Linked DNA regions of Homo sapiens: region 2 is linked to region 1. A link means that fine-mapping ties the variant in region 1 to the expression of a gene that starts in the linked region. Tissue or cell type: whole blood. Region 1 holds a variant in brackets; the other region holds the start of a gene. All regions are shown on one strand. Distances are between the middles of the regions.

Region 1 (7,858 bases):
CCAAGACAGTATTCTTGTTAAAATGAAACTAAGTAGGAGATAATGGAAGTGAAAGGTATCTGAAGATGGTTTTTTCATTATTTGGCTTACCTCATGGTGGAAGCACCCATTTCAAAATAGTTTCTAAATGTATGTGTATAAACATTTCAAAGACAATAATTGTAACAATAGTTATAACATCCTGTTAGACTAGTCACCTTTCAACAAAGCCAGTAAGCCAAAATAAATAAATCTTGCCAAAGCTTCTCTCTTATCAAGGTGAACAACTCATTCCAGTTTACCTAGGAACATCCCAGGTTTAGCCCTAAAGGTCCTGCATCCCAGGAATCTCCCCAGGCCTGGGTAAACCTGAACATTTGTCCCCCTGCCTCTAATAATGAAGAGCATGGTCACATGAGCAGGCACTAAAGGGCAGAAAACTGATCCAAAGATCCAAAAGGTAAGTTCAAAGAAGAATCTTATAGGGTAAATACTGGTCCAAGGGATGAGGCTAAAACAAGGCCAGCAGGCTGAAGAGCAAAGATCAGTTTTCAAGAGCACTCACACTGGCTTCTCACAACCACAGGGTTGGTTTCTTCTAAGGCCTCTCTCTTGACTGTAGGTGGCCTTCCTCTCCCTGTGTCTTCACGTTGTCTCCCCTGTGTGTATCTGTGTCCTAATCTCCTCTTCCGATAAGGACACCAGTATTGGATCAGGGCCCACCAGGATTGAGGCAGGAAAATAGGGTCTGGAGGCAGGGAACCTAAGACCATTTCATGCTGACTTCCTAGAACTGAATTGAAAGGAAAATCCTAACTTTCCAGCCTAAGTAACAAAAGGACCAGAGACTACTCCCTTTGCAAACCCCCACCTTTTCTGCACAGCAGATGGGAAATTGAAAGTACCTCTGATTGGTTGATTTTTGCAACCAATCAGACATTTGCATAGGAGTGTGACCTTTGGAACTTCACTTCAGCCTCTGGTTGATTGCTTTCTGCAACCAATTAGACTGACGGCGGGCCACCACTTCATTTACATGAGGTGAGCACCAAGTGGTCAATGGGAAACCCCTAGAGGGTATTTGGACTCAGGAAGATTCTGTATCTGGGCTCTTGAGCCCCTGTGCTGGGGCCCACTCCCACCCTGTAGAGTGTGCTTTTGTTTTCAATAAATCTCTGCTTTTGTCGCTTCATTCTTTCCCTGCTTTGTGCATTTTGTCCAATTATTTGTTCAAAATGCCAAGAACCTGGACACCCTCCACTGGTAACAAGATGACCTCATTTTACCGTAATTACCTCTTTAAAGACCCTATCTTCAAATATAGTCACATTCTGAGGTACTGGGGGCCTAAGACTTCAACACAAGAATTTTAAGGGGAAAGATACTAAACATAGTGGATGACTTCTGGGAAATACAATTACAGCCCTGAAAACATGAGCATCACCAGAAGTCATGTATGTTAGAGGTTTAAGAAGACCACCAGTTCCCAGATAGCTTACCTACATTTCATAGTATTCGTTTACCTAAGTCCCACAGCCTAAACATTTTTAAAAAGTGAGACTAACAGTTAGGAACCACAGAGGAACTAGCACAGGAGAAAAAAAAATAGTGAAAGACAAAGAATCAGTTCATTCATGGCATCTAACATTCACACTGCACTTGATAGTCTGTGAGCATTTTCCACCTATTATTTCATGCATCTGCACAACAAGCCTGTGAGCCAGGGTCCTTACTCACAACCAAAGTCCCCCACACCCAGTTCCAACCACGCGGGTGCTTAAGTGCATGGTGACCATATTATTACTTGCTTTTGGCTTTGTGCTGTGTGGCTTGCTCTGTGGCTCATCATAAGATATTTATTCCAGATCCCTTCCCGGTGAGACATGTAGATGCTGTTTCATCAGAAGTTGCGTGGGTCATGAAGCCCAAGGCCAGCAGTTCTGGATGCCTCCATGAAGCTGGATATTGCTTACTTGTTAGCATCCCTCTCTGGCAATCATCAATAACCTCTTTTCAAAAGTACCTCCTTATACAAGACTCTTATCAACTGATTTCATCATTTTTAGCACTGAAACCTTGGTCTTCCTGCTCTCTGCTCTGACAGCATCTCTCTGATAACCTGAGAAATCAGAGTTTCACCCCTGAAACTAAACAGGCCATTATTTCCTAATTTTAAATGATGACATGACAAGCCTTCACCCTATCTGTTTCTTATTTCCTTGAACTCTCCCACCCTCACCAGCAGCCAACACAAATCACAACGCAATGCAAAGGCCAGGCCACAGAACACGCTGTGAATCGACAGTTTCAGAAGACGTCATTCACACAATGTGCAAGGCACTTCCTGCACAGCCATCTCTGTGCCCCTGCAAAGGGCATGTGGCATGAGGCAGTAAAATAAGTATAGTCTGTGTTTGGGTATGAAAGGTGGTGGGTGGGGCGTGAATACATCCAAGATATGCTTTAGGACTAAGTCAAAAGAGAACTGAGAGTGAGAAAGAAGATTGGGATGACCTCCAGTTGCCCATCCAGATCCCTGGAGACTGATCTTCATGTGCTAAATTAACTATGTCCCCTTACCTCTGGCTTCTAGATGGGCTGGGGTAATGGGAAGGACTGCAGAGGGTGGAGGGTGGGATGAGAGAGCAATTGGGGTATTTATCCTCCCCATTTCCTCCTCACCAGGCCCCAGTTTGACAATGGTGCATTCCTCTAACCCCAGGCTCAGCTCCTGCCAGTCTTCCCTCTCCAGCTAATCCTTTCTCAAGGAACTCTTCCTCCCCGGCCTCTTCTGGCCTGAGGATTCTAACAGCTTCCCAAGTTGCTGGCCCTGGGGGGCTGCATCATCCCTCACTGGTTTCCCTTAACCTTGCTGACCCCATAGAAATAATTCTTCAATTAAACTCTCTTAAATCACTCCTTATACATTCATTTAATCAGCAACCATAATTGAGCAACTTTGGTAGGCCTCGTGTCATTCACCCTAAAAGAAACAAGGATGAATAAAACTGGTCTTTCCCCTAAGAGAGTTTTGAAGCATCTTTTTTCTTCTTCAGACATCAGACCCTGCCTTCCCTATGAGGAGGGAGGGCACCAGACCCTGCCCTCCCAAACACTTGGAATTTAACCAGCCACTCCTCAGTTTCTTGTACCATGATGGCCACATGAACTAGGTTTGGCCACTTATGATACTCATCCCCTGCCACAGTGATTGGCTCAGGGATGAGCATGTAACCCAACACTGACTTCATCTCTCACTGGTAATTTTGTCAGAGCTACTATAGAAGTTTTTTTCCTTTTTCTAAGCTTGTTAATTGTGAGGGTGTTGTGAACCTGGAGCTGTTGATGGCCATGTTGGCTTCCCTATTGGAGAGAACCAACTGAGAATTCGGTCAACACAGATGAAAGCAGAGATGGGAGGTAGAAAGTGTGAGAAAGACAGGTTCCTAACATTCTTTGTATACCTTGATCCAAATGGATCTGAATTCCATCTCTGGAATGTTCAGTTATCCAAGCTATTTTGTCTAAGCAATTTGAGTTAGATATCTGTCTCCTGCAAACAAAACAGTCCTGAGTAGTAAAAATGGCCTCCTTTACTAATCCATGCTACACCAATAGTCCAAGGCACCAAAGACTTGTCAAGGGAAAGAATTCTTTCACACAGTCACTAACAGTATCTTTAGAGAATGGGGAGCAGGTGGAAAAGAACATTCCAAAGTGCAACACACTTAGATGAGACAAGAATGTTAGATCTTAACTTTAGGGATTTCCCCTACATGTCTTGAAATTTAAATGTATTCATTTTAACATAAGTAAACAGGGAGAGCCAAGTCCTTATCAAGAGACAATATGCCCATATCAAGATATACAATTGATCCTTAAATCTTGACATCAAGATTTTGTTCCCACAATAATGAAGTTGAATTGCCATGTGCTTCTGTCAGATAATGACATTTAGGTTGATGTTGTCATTAA[TA/T]AAAAAAAAAAAAAATCAGAAATAGCAATCTCTCAGCTGGGCACCGTGGCTCACGCCTATAATCCCAGGATTTTCAGAGGCCAAGGTGGGTGGATTGCCTGAGGTCAGGAGTTTGAGACCAGCCTGGCCAACATGGTGAAACCCCATCTCTACTAAAATTACCCAAAAAAACCCTATCTCTACTAAAATTACCAAAAAAATTACCAAAGCAGTGCACACTTGTAATCCCAGCTACTCAGGAGGCTGAGACAGGAGAATCACTTGAACCCGGGAGACAGAGGTTGCAGTGAGCTGAGATTGCATCACTGCACTCCAGCCTGGACAACAGAGTAAGACAGAGCAAGACTCTGTCTCAAAAAAAAAAAAAAGAAGAAGAAGAAGAAAAAGAAATAGCAGTCTCTGAAAACTAAGAGCAAAAACTTTGTTTTGTCCTTTCCATTTAATACTCACTGAAAAAAAAATCACACTTTTCCTAGCTTAATGCAACATGAAAATTCAGAAATAAAACCTAAATTATTTTCATATTCCTCATTTATCAACACTTACAACAAAAGGCCTCTTCAGCATACATAGCACACAAACCAAGATGAACAAGTTTTGTTCAGATCAAAACAATCAAATATATTGCAAATTTCTTCCTCAAATAGGAGCTTTTCATAACTAAACTCAAGGAGGAATAAATCACAAAATGTTATATCCAGATTCTTTTATTAATGTGACATTAAATCTTGAAAATCCCACAGCAACTACTTTTAACAATTTTAAAGAATCCAAGTCATTTTCATGAGATGTCTTTTTCAATGTTTTTCAATGCTTCCTCAAAAGTTAATTATTTAAGCTGAAGTCCTGGAATGTTTAGGCTTTGGGGCACCACTGAGAGAAACAAAAGCTGGAGTTACAAGAGCAGAGCTGGGAAATTTTTGAGAAAATCGTCAAGAAACATAAATGCTTGAGGGACTCAGAGAGTTTACACACATGTTCACGGCAGCATTATTCACATTAGCCAATAGGTGGAAGGAACCCAAACGTTCACCAACAGATGAGTGGATAAACAAAACGAGGTATATACATACAGTGAGACATTATTCAACCTTAAAGAGAAAGGAAATTCTGACACATGCTACAACATGGGTGAACCTTGAGGACATTATGGTAAGTGAAATAAGCCAGTCATAGAAGGACAAATATTGTATGATTTCATTTATATGAGGTGCCTAGAGTAGTCAAATTCATAGAGCAGAACGGTGGTCGTCAGGGGCTGTGGGGAGGAGGAAGTGGGGAGTTGTTGTTTGATGGTAAGTTACAGAGTTTGAGTTGGGGAAGATGAAGAAGTTCTGGAGATGGATGGTGGTGATGGTTGCACAATAATGTGAATGTACTTAATGCCACTGAACTGTACATTTAAAAATGGTTAAAATGGTAAAGTTTATGTTTTGCATATTTTATACCACGACCAGCAACAAAAACCCTCAAAAATGCTTAAAGGAGCAGGCAGACATATGGGCACGTGAAGCCAGTCAGGATGTGTGACAGACAGAAGGGTGAGGACCAGTGTGCACGCGTCCTCTCTAAAGAGAACACGCATCACTCAGCTCTCCAATTGCTGTCAGGCAGGAACTGGACCCAGTATTATATGTGGATATTATGATTTTTCAGGAGAAGCCTGAAATCCGCATTTTTATAAAATATCCTCTTTTTTTTAAGTTAGCAACAAATTTTAAAAAGTTTTTAAAACACTGCAAGTCAAATAAAGGGTGTCTGCAGGCCTCTAGTGGACTACCTGGTTTAGTGGTGAATTAGCAGCCCTCTATAAACGAAGGCTGCATTGGATCCAGGGCAGAAAGCCGAGTCCTAACAGTATTAGCTTGTGCAGGCAATTATTTCCAGATTGTGTTGCTGTATGCATTCACAAAGGAAGGCCTAGGAATATATCGCAACCATAACCTTATTCTCGGAAGCTTTGAACAAGTGGAAATGGGGTGTTTTATGTGTGTGTTTTGTTTTCCTTTTGTGTGGCTAAAATGAGAGCCTTTGGAATTCTTGTATGTATAAGAACAGGCTGTTCATTTATTGACCAGTGTAATAGATTCCCACATTAGTCTCAGACTAGAAATGAATGCCCCTTTGAAGAAAGGGTAGAATAATAAAGATGTGAACAGCATTTATCCAAATTACATGAAGGGCAACTTAGCAGTATTAACACCTCTCACTCTTACAAATGGGGCTGTGTGGGAGCCTGAATTTTAAAACAAAATCAATGTTTTAATTTTCTATCTTATGGAGTTGAAGCTGGGGGTGGGAGAATGACTTCTAAATAATAAAGCATCTTATAACAAACTAACATGAGTTGTAACTAAGTAAATGCAACTCTGAAACAGAACTCATAGCTCTTAAAACTCATCCTCTATTCTTCAAAATAATCAATTTTATTTGTAGTGTTTTTCTTATTATTGCTATACTGTAAATGAAGCACATAATGTCTTTTGAGTAAGAATGTGATGTAATTCATTGATTGCTAGGCAATAATATTCAATTCATTTTAACAAATGTATATTGAGCACCTTTTCAATGCTCAGAATTGTGATGGGCACAGCAGGTAATACAAAAAAAAATTGTGTCCATCCTCCTGTCACAATTAACGCTCCACCCAACAACACAGCTCACATTTCAAATACGGCAACGAGGAAAGCAAACGTGAAGCAATTAGCGCAGAGACGGAGGCAGAAACTACCCTGCAGCTCCCCTTGAGTTCCACAGGGAGGAAACATTTTGTGCCCTAATACCCCTAACCCTTGCTGGGGGTCCCCTTGTTATGGCACATGCGTCAGAGCTGGCAGGGACACCAGAGGACATGGAGCAGTCTTCCGCCTTCAGATTTGGTATTTATTGCACAGATGAGGTATCTGAGGCTCAGTTAAGGGATTTTTCCAAAGGCACCTAGCAAGTGGAAAAAGGGAGCAGAACCCGGAGCCCAGCTTCCGAGGCATGACCCCCCAGCCCCGCTCCACTGCCCATTGCCTCAGCAGCAGCGAGCGTTCTTCCTCCACTGCCGAAGCACTTCCTGAGCTCCTCCTTCTGCACACCAGGCTCTGCCCAACCCCAGCGGATGTCTCGGATGCAGTTCGTTGCATTTATGAAAGTTTAATGGCAAGATCAAGGGAGAGGAGAGAGAGAGGGGTGGGTGAGCTCTCGGTTTCCAGCTGGGCCTCCCAATTCTTGTGCCCCTCAGGGGTCACTACAGGTCCAAGGCCTGGTCCTCAGCTCTGCACATGCAGGAATTTGATTTTATCAGTTCACTCGGGAGTGATGAGACCCTAGGGGACCAACTCATGCCAACTAAATGCTCAAGACGCTGATTGATAAACCAGAAGGCCACTTTACTTGAGTATCCTGGGAAACATATTGTCGGGTGGATCCAGATATGCTTCTCTTGGGTTTTGAAGTCCTTTTGGGGAAACCAGATGAGTAAGGGGAGACTCTGTGGAAAATACAGACTCAGAGGAAAGGAACCTTGGTGGACTCAGCTCCACGCCAACCTCCCAGCTGTCCCCGTGCCTTCCCTCCCCTCTACTGTACTTGCCAACGATTGCCACCTCTCTTCTCCCTAAACACACTCTACCCTTTCTCTGCCTGTTCAAATCCTATTAATAAGTTAACACCTAGTGAGTGTTTGCTTACTACAGGATGGGCACAGTTCTAATAGTTTTATATAATTTCCCTAACACCCAATTCTCTCTTAAAAGAGAGAATAATGACAGTCCATACCGCACAGTGTTAGGAAAATTATATAAAACTATTAGAGATAAAGGCTCAGGAGGGTTAAGTAACTTGCCCATAGTGACGCAGCTAGCAAGACACCACCAGGATTCAAACCCAGGCAGTCAGACCCTAGAGCCCATGTTG
Region 2 (7,858 bases), 310 kb before region 1:
AGTATCTGGAATTAACATGACAATTGATCAATTCACACGTGTATGTGCTTTACATTAAGCTGGAAAGCCACATGCATTCTTTAATGCTTGCTTCAAATGCTATGAGCACATGAACTACCTTCTGTGGCCCATGGTTTTAACTCGCATAACTTGTACTAACACTATGAGTTTTCCTCTTAACCCCTGTCTAACCAGGTAAGGGTTTCCCAATCCAGGGGACATAAGACTGTTGTTAATGGATCTCAAGGAGGAAAATAAAAGAAAGTTACAATTTGGTAGCTATGTGAACATATTATTCCTTTTCATGCAGAATTTAGAGAACATTGCAAAATTCACACACTCGAAGAATAAAATCCGATGCGGTGGAACCGAATGTGGAAATGGGGTGATGGGTTTTGTCCAGTGCAGTTCTATCACCTTTTGGCATCACTAACGTACATATCAATTGACTCAGGGGTGGATAAAATTCAAGAGGGCCTGGGGAACTTGGTTGGGAAAAATATTATATCTTTAGTTTCACTAACCTCAAACTGAAATTTAGTATTTCCTTCAATTAAAATGTAGGCCACAAGCCACAGCACCTGTGATATTGTTGCCAAGAGAAATCACAGATATTTTCACCTCATTTTACAGTTGTTGTAGATATCCTGAAATATCTTTTATGCTCACCATTACTTCAAAATTATGGTAGTTATGGTAGTTATTATAACTGCTGTTAGTTTGTATTATGTAATAATGTGTTACTAACAAAGCATGTATCACAATTTTGTAAAATTTAGTTAACGTTTTTCAATGAATGAAAGTGGTTTGATTTGTAAACCTGCATACTTTATTTTATGCATGTAAAAACATAATTCTGAGAAAAGTACATAGGCTTCACCAGGCTGCCAAAGAGGTCCACAGCACCAAACGGGTTAAGAATGTCCGAAACTATACACAAAATATTTAATAATGCAACAGCCAGGTTTCTAGAGTACCTCGTTCCTTGCCAGCATCTTTTGAAGCTGCAACAAACATGACCTTGAAATCAACATAGTCTCAATGCTGTAAAATGATTCTGATGACAGTCTTTTTTTCTCTTATTTTCCCATAGGAAAAGACCTGTAGATTCTAGAGCATCTCTGCTTTCACAGCATAGGTTGTTTTCTTTTAGTGATAAACTTCATCATTGAGATTTTGCCATCAACGCTGAATTATTCTCTTGTATTTCATACCGCTGAAATATAGTCTATTTTGAAAGAGCATTGAATACAATTATTATAAGACTTTAATTTAAAATGTCATAGAGACAGCACCAAGAAAATCTCTGCTACCTGGAAAAACTATAATGATAATTCCACATTTTGAGTAAAAGAAGTAAATGTCAAAGTGTACCTCATCAAAGATAGTGCTGTTAAATGACGGTGCTACTGGTCTTATCTGTGCTCAACTGAAATGTTACATATAAATTATCATTTTTCTAGGGGTGTTAAGAATATGGCCTCTGGGTTATTATAATTTTGAGATCAATTAAGTGATGAGATTATGTCTCAGTAGATGTGCCTGGAATGAAAGCACATTAGACTTTTGGAAAATCCTCCACGGAGACCCTGACCAAAAACAGACATGTCAAATGCCAGCAAGTTAAATGAATATTCACTCATTGAAAGCTACTGAGAAATTATTGATATACCCACAGTTATTCACTTATTACTGTAGCTAAATACTGTTCAAAATTTTTCACCTCCAAGAGTAAAATAAATGCTATTAGAATTCTGAAACTAATAAAGAACATAAAAATTAAAACAATATATTCTTGCACTAAATTACGATATAATTCACACACTGTGAATATATGGTATTCATATATACAGTTAAACCAGTTTCTTCTACTAATTAAAATACTAGCTGTATTACATGTAGTGCTCTAAAATTTGCCCCTTTTTCTGTTAAACTTGTAAGATTTAGACACCTGGTTATAAATCTAGACTTTGGCTAACTTCAGTACTACAGGTATTCTTTAAATTAGAAGCTCCAAAACAATTCAACCTGTATGTCATGAAAGAAAATCTGAAATTACTAAACTTGGGAAGGAAAGGAACTACAATACAAAGAAAACAATTTGTAGTAAATAGTATTATAGGAATAAAGAGATAAAAATTCTTATTAATCACAGTTATCAAATTATTCATTTAAGATCCAGAGCAAATTGTGAGTGACTACTTCTATCTGTGTTTGAGTTAAAGTAGAACTTGTGTCAATGATACTTTTCATTTTAGGGCTATTGTTTTTTTCTTTAGGTAATTATGACGATTTTTAAAAATAACAACAGCTTACATGACTCCTTAGTAAAGACCACCTCATGCCATTCTCTTCACAGCTGAATTTTCAGGGGAGGATACTGGAAATATGCACTTTGCTCTAACAACCAAAAAGCAATTGCATGCACACATGTAAAAGGTTCCACCCCAACTTCCTTGGCATATTCCCGATTATTTCTCTCTAAACAGGAAACTGTTGACAATTTTTCCTGGTACTTTCAGAATACCAAAGGTTTTACTTACAAGCAAAATCCCAACTTTTGTTTCAGTTATAATGTTATTTCCCGTGGTTCCTATTGTTGCTAAATATGAATGCTGCAAACAAGATAGAAACCAAATTCCAAACTATTTTAGGCTGATTCAGAATTGAGTAGCAATTGTAAAAAGAAAAGTTAGAAACACATTGCAAGGCTATGCTGGAGTTTTTAAACCCAAAACAATACTGAAGGGAGGATTCCTGGAATTCAAGAGAGAATATTTGGCTCAAGCTGCAAAATCCGTATGTCTAAATAATGTTATGTTAGCAAGTGTTGAGCAAGCAAGACGATTATATTTTAACCTACTTCACAAAACATTAATCCAAATTTAACCAAATTCCAGAGAACCTGCCTGAAATTCACAACTAGAAGCTGCTTCACATTTTCCCCTTGGTACAACAATAATTGCTCATGAATACAAACTTGTAGGAGGTAAGAGAGAGGGGAAAACCACAATGAGCTATAAAAACATCTAACTATTGTATATAAAGCAAACTAATTACCTCACTCAGAAGAAGTGCAAGATTTAACAGTCCATGCTCTGCAGCCCCTGGAAACAGCAGTAGCAGCAGCAGCAAGGTCCAGCATCCACCAGATTCTCACAAGCCTTTGACTGTGTGGACTCAGCCACAGACTCTGCCTCTAGCTGACGTCAAAGTCCCTGTCACATGGCCAGATGAAAGCCAAGAGATCATTGGTTGTCGTAGCAACCACAGACCGGCTCTGAAATTATTTCAATAGGTCATCTGTCACTGTGGTGTGTGTGTGTGAGAGAGAGAGTATGTGTGTACGCACACACCATAGAACCATCACGGACAGCTCCTTGACAACCTCAACCCCCGAAGTTGTGACTCCAGAATGCCTACAACTTTCCTCTTTAAGGCTTTGGTGTCTTTTCTCTACAGTTACTTGCAGGAAAATATATGCCACCCTGAAGTTCTCATTTGTTTCACTACCATCAGCATGAAGCATGTCTCTCTCTCTCTCTTTCTCTATAACAAAAGGAAAGAAACTGAAAAATTCTGGAGTAGTTTTCTTAGCCAATTAAACTTATTTGCAAGCAAATATATAAAAACAGAAGCTCAGGGGGAGGGGTTGGAAGAAAATGTATTTTAAAAACTATATCAGAGTCTACATGGATATACTGAGACCATGCTTGTGATGGAAAGAAAAATAAAAAACAGTGGCTTGGGTTCATGACAGTGGCTTATGACTCAGAGACAGGTAAGACAGTCTAATGATCCTGACACCAAGTAGGATGTAGACATCAGATAACATAAATTCAGGATTCCTGTACTGTAAAATGTCTAGGTAAAAATGAGGACCGAAGGAGTTTCAAAACAGTGTTACTTTAAAATAACCATGTGAGTAAGCTGAAAACTGTGCTTTGGGGCCATACGGGTGCCAAATGCTCCCCTCTTGAGTCCTCTCATCCACACCCCTTTGCTGAGACTCAACATTGAGTAAACAGGGCCAGTGTTCCACAAACACAAAGTGTAATGAAAGCCCAGAGCCATAGAATGAAAGGGTTATCTCACATGTTTTCTAACATCAGCTTTATTTCCTTTACGACGACCCTAGCTTACTTTTAACTCTGCACACGTGCCTATTTCCCAGTTAATTCTCTTTCTTAATTAATGGGAAGCCGATTAAACAAAATCAATGAAACTCACAAGAAGGTACTCTGAAAAAGACATTCAGAAAATGTATGCCCAAACAAAGGACAAGGAGTTAAAAGGCAGGGGAGAAGAGACTGCCCTCAAAACCCTAAGGACCTTTATATGCTAGGCTTATAACGACTTCTATTCTGTTTCTTAAAATAAATAAATAAATAAAAAAGAGTAGCTCTGGGGTGCTACAAAATATAAATGGAACCTAAGTCAGCCAGGCAGATTACATTTGTGTCACTGTAAAAGAATGAAATTTCTTTAGTAGAATCAGAAATTGCTTCTTTAATAATAAGACTAATGTTCAAATCACTTGGTCATAGAATCGTCCTACTCCATCCTCCTTTTCATCTTCCTTTATTTCTGTCCCAGCCCCAATTGGGAGAAAAGATAGATTTTTATTTAAAAAGTTATTTTCCTGATGCGATTAGCTGTGGCACTGCAAAACCGAAATCAAACTATAAGGAACTTTCCTCCTTTAATTTCAGATTAATGACAGCTGGGAATTTACCTGTTTGAACAAGGACAATGGAATCCAATGTCTACCTAAAGCCTCACTAGGGGCAGATTTCACCAACAGCCACAATTCATAAACTGACAATTTGTTCCAATTATTGTTCTGCTTTTATGTTCAGAAATGCACATCATACAAATGAGGGAACCGGAAGAGGCAGAGAAACATACCCTTCTAGCTTTCCCTGGACCCACGTTCTCTGAGCTGCTTAATTTACCATCTCTCTGGCTCTAATCCATAGCTGCCTAATTAATTCTTCCTCCTCTTTATGCAGCTTTAGCATTTAAGAGAGAAAAACTGCAGTGCCACATTCTGCTAATAGGTGATGTCTTCTGAAATAAGAAGTTCTCAGTTCTAAAAAAAAAAAAAAATGCCTAAAATTCAGGACTTTAAATGGATTAATTTGAAAATTAGCAAAAAACCAACACTTTTACTTTGACTGGTTTAGCATTTTTAAGACTAAGTATACTTTATACTGCCTTGGGCAGTATTAAAATATTCAGTGAACTATTAAAATATTCAGTGAACTGGCTGGGCATGGTGGCTCACGCCTGTAATACCAGCACTTTGGGAGGCTGAGGCCGGTGGATCACAAGGTCAGGAGATCAAGACCATCCTGGCTAACACGGTGAAACCCCGTCTCTATTAAAAATACAAAAAATTAGCCAGGCATGGTGGCACATGCCTGTATTCCCAGCTACTCAGGAGGCTGAGGCAGGAGGATCGCTTGAACCTGGGAGGTGGAGGTTGCAGTGAGCCAAGATCATGCCACTGCACTCCAGCCTGGGTGACAGAGTGAGACTCCGTCTCAAAAAAAAAAAAAAAAAATGCAGTGAACTGACCTTCAAAATGAAAAGTGGGTGCATGTAGCCCTTTTTTTCTACAACATGCTTCAACCAGAAACTGAAGAGAGAGATTAAGTAATTTGCCTACCTACTCATTTTCCTTTGCAAACTACCTAGGTTTAGAATTTCCTCTTAGAGTGAAGGAAGCTACCAGTCTTCTGTGAGGTTGAAGGCATGATGGTGATCTCTTTAGAGCTCAGATTCCTACCAATTTGGTTAATTAACCCAAATGTAGTTGAAAGTATCACAGGAAATACACATGAGAGCTTTCTCCAATCACAGCCCACTACACTGAAGAGAATATGTGCCATTTTATTTTCTAATTGACAAGTCATTTTTTAAGGTGAAAATGATTCACCAAATTTAAAAATATCCATTCAAAAATAGTTCTGCATCTTATTTTTCACTCTTTGTAAAAATGTCAAGGCTGCCTATTATTAGTTTGACCACTTTGCCAGAAATAACTGGTAAATGCCACTAAACAAGCAGTCTGACCTGGGCTCACACACCTGAACTAACAGGTGGTTTGGGTCATGCAATTCTAACCAGTCTTTTGTCGATGTTTGTACATAGGGATGTTGCTGTCTCCTCTGTCTTAACGTTAATGGGCAGGCCTGGACCTACTGTTTAGAGCTACTGGGTTCAAATTTCATCTTTTTATGGCTGGACCTTGAGCAAGCTACTTAAGTCCTCTGAGCTGCAGTACCTACATCTTAAGGTTGTTTGGAGGATAATAAAGTTAATATATTATAAAATTCTGACACCTTGCCACAGGGTAGATGGCTCAAGTGTGTATGTCATTTCTTCTTTATCTGTCTGACTCTGATAAGCCTACAAAGATCTTCAGGGAAAGGATGAAATCTTATTCATCTGTACAACACTACAGTTAGCACACAACCCAGAACACAGTGAATCCTCAATCCATGTTGAATGACTCAACTATTGGGAAATAAATGTTGAAGAGTAGAAAGAAATGGTTCCTTTTTCTTCCTACTAATAGGGAAGAGAGCCTCTCTCCAACCCCCAACCTCAAAAAAAGGAAAAGAAGAAAAAAGAAAGAACAAAAATGTTGAGTTATCATAAACTTTTCTAAAACTGGATGGCTCCAAGTAAATCAAACTTAACCCTACTCATACATAAATAAATAAATATTTGTTATGAGTACATGTAAGTTATATGTGGATGTATTTAACGGTTCTTGCTGTTGATGTTGGAAAATTTTTACATTAACTGACATCGAGTGCTTACTACATGTGGAACATTTTTCTAAGTACTATACATTTATTAAATCATTTACTATAATAATCCTATGAGGCAGGCACTATTCCATATTTCACAATTGAAGAAACTGAAGAGAGAGATGAAGTAATTTGCCTACCTACTGCATAGCAGAGCCAGGATTTATACTCAGGAAGCTTAGCTCTGTAAAATTTTGGAAATAATTTACATTTGATATGCTTTTAGAAAAAATTGAATTATTTCTCATGTTTGTTTTACACTGTAGGGTTGTTTTTATTTTTAAATTTTTTGTGAAAGGGAGAAGGCCAACTTGTCTTTTCTTCATCTTGGAACTCTAAAGATCTTAATCTATCTTTGGCCTACAAAGTTCTATGGCAAGAAAATAATCTAGTCAGAAAAATTTGAATCAAGGAAAATGGGCAAAGTAAACTAGAGAAAATGTCCTGAATACAACTATGCCTAAATTATTATAGTCTTAGCTGAAGCAATATTTAGAATGCACAGGCTTGGGTGAGTTCTGTTTCCCACTATGATGAAGTAGCATGTGTTCAAACCAATACTCTCACTGAAATAACAAAAATAGCTAGCTAGATATATATTTTTAATGGCTGGAAGACATCAAAGAGTGGCAGAGGCAGCAAAAATTTTAAGTGCCAGGGTCTCAGATAAAAGGAAAATATATTGAGCGTCTTATTCCATTTGGACTGCTATAACAAAATACCATTAACTAGGTAGCTTATAAACAACAGAAATGTATGTCTCATAGTTCTGGAGGCTGGGAAGTCCAAGATCAAGGCTCCTACAGATGTGGTCTCTTGTGAGAGCCCATTTCCTGCTTCCTAGATGGCGCCTTCAAGCTGAGTCTTCACATGGTAGGACAGGCACACAGGACGAAGACAGCTATTTAGGGCCTCTTTTATAAGGAAATTTATCCCATTTATGAGGGCACTACCCTTATGATCTAACAACCTCCCAAAAAGGCCCACCTCCTAACACCATCACTTTGTGGGTTAGGGTTTCAACATATGAATTTGGG

What was found. PIP is the estimated chance that this variant, and not a neighbour inherited with it, causes the effect.
Region 2: it holds the start of NCALD, and the variant in region 1 is fine-mapped to the expression of NCALD in whole blood (INTERVAL, PIP above 0.99).

The regions. Positions count from the first base shown.
Region 1 is chr8:102,095,673-102,103,530 of GRCh38, forward strand. It overlaps a transcript of NCALD not described here. Among named protein-coding and RNA genes, the nearest start is that of MIR5680, 26 kb to the right of the region's middle. RefSeq lists enhancers at 2,149-2,308, 2,319-2,368. The variant TA/T (reference allele first, on the strand shown) is at 3,955.
Region 2 is chr8:101,787,802-101,795,659 of GRCh38, forward strand. It overlaps NCALD (neurocalcin delta), which reads right to left and starts at 3,168. Exons shown (of 4, transcript NM_032041.3): 1 at 3,061-3,168. RefSeq lists an enhancer at 1-324.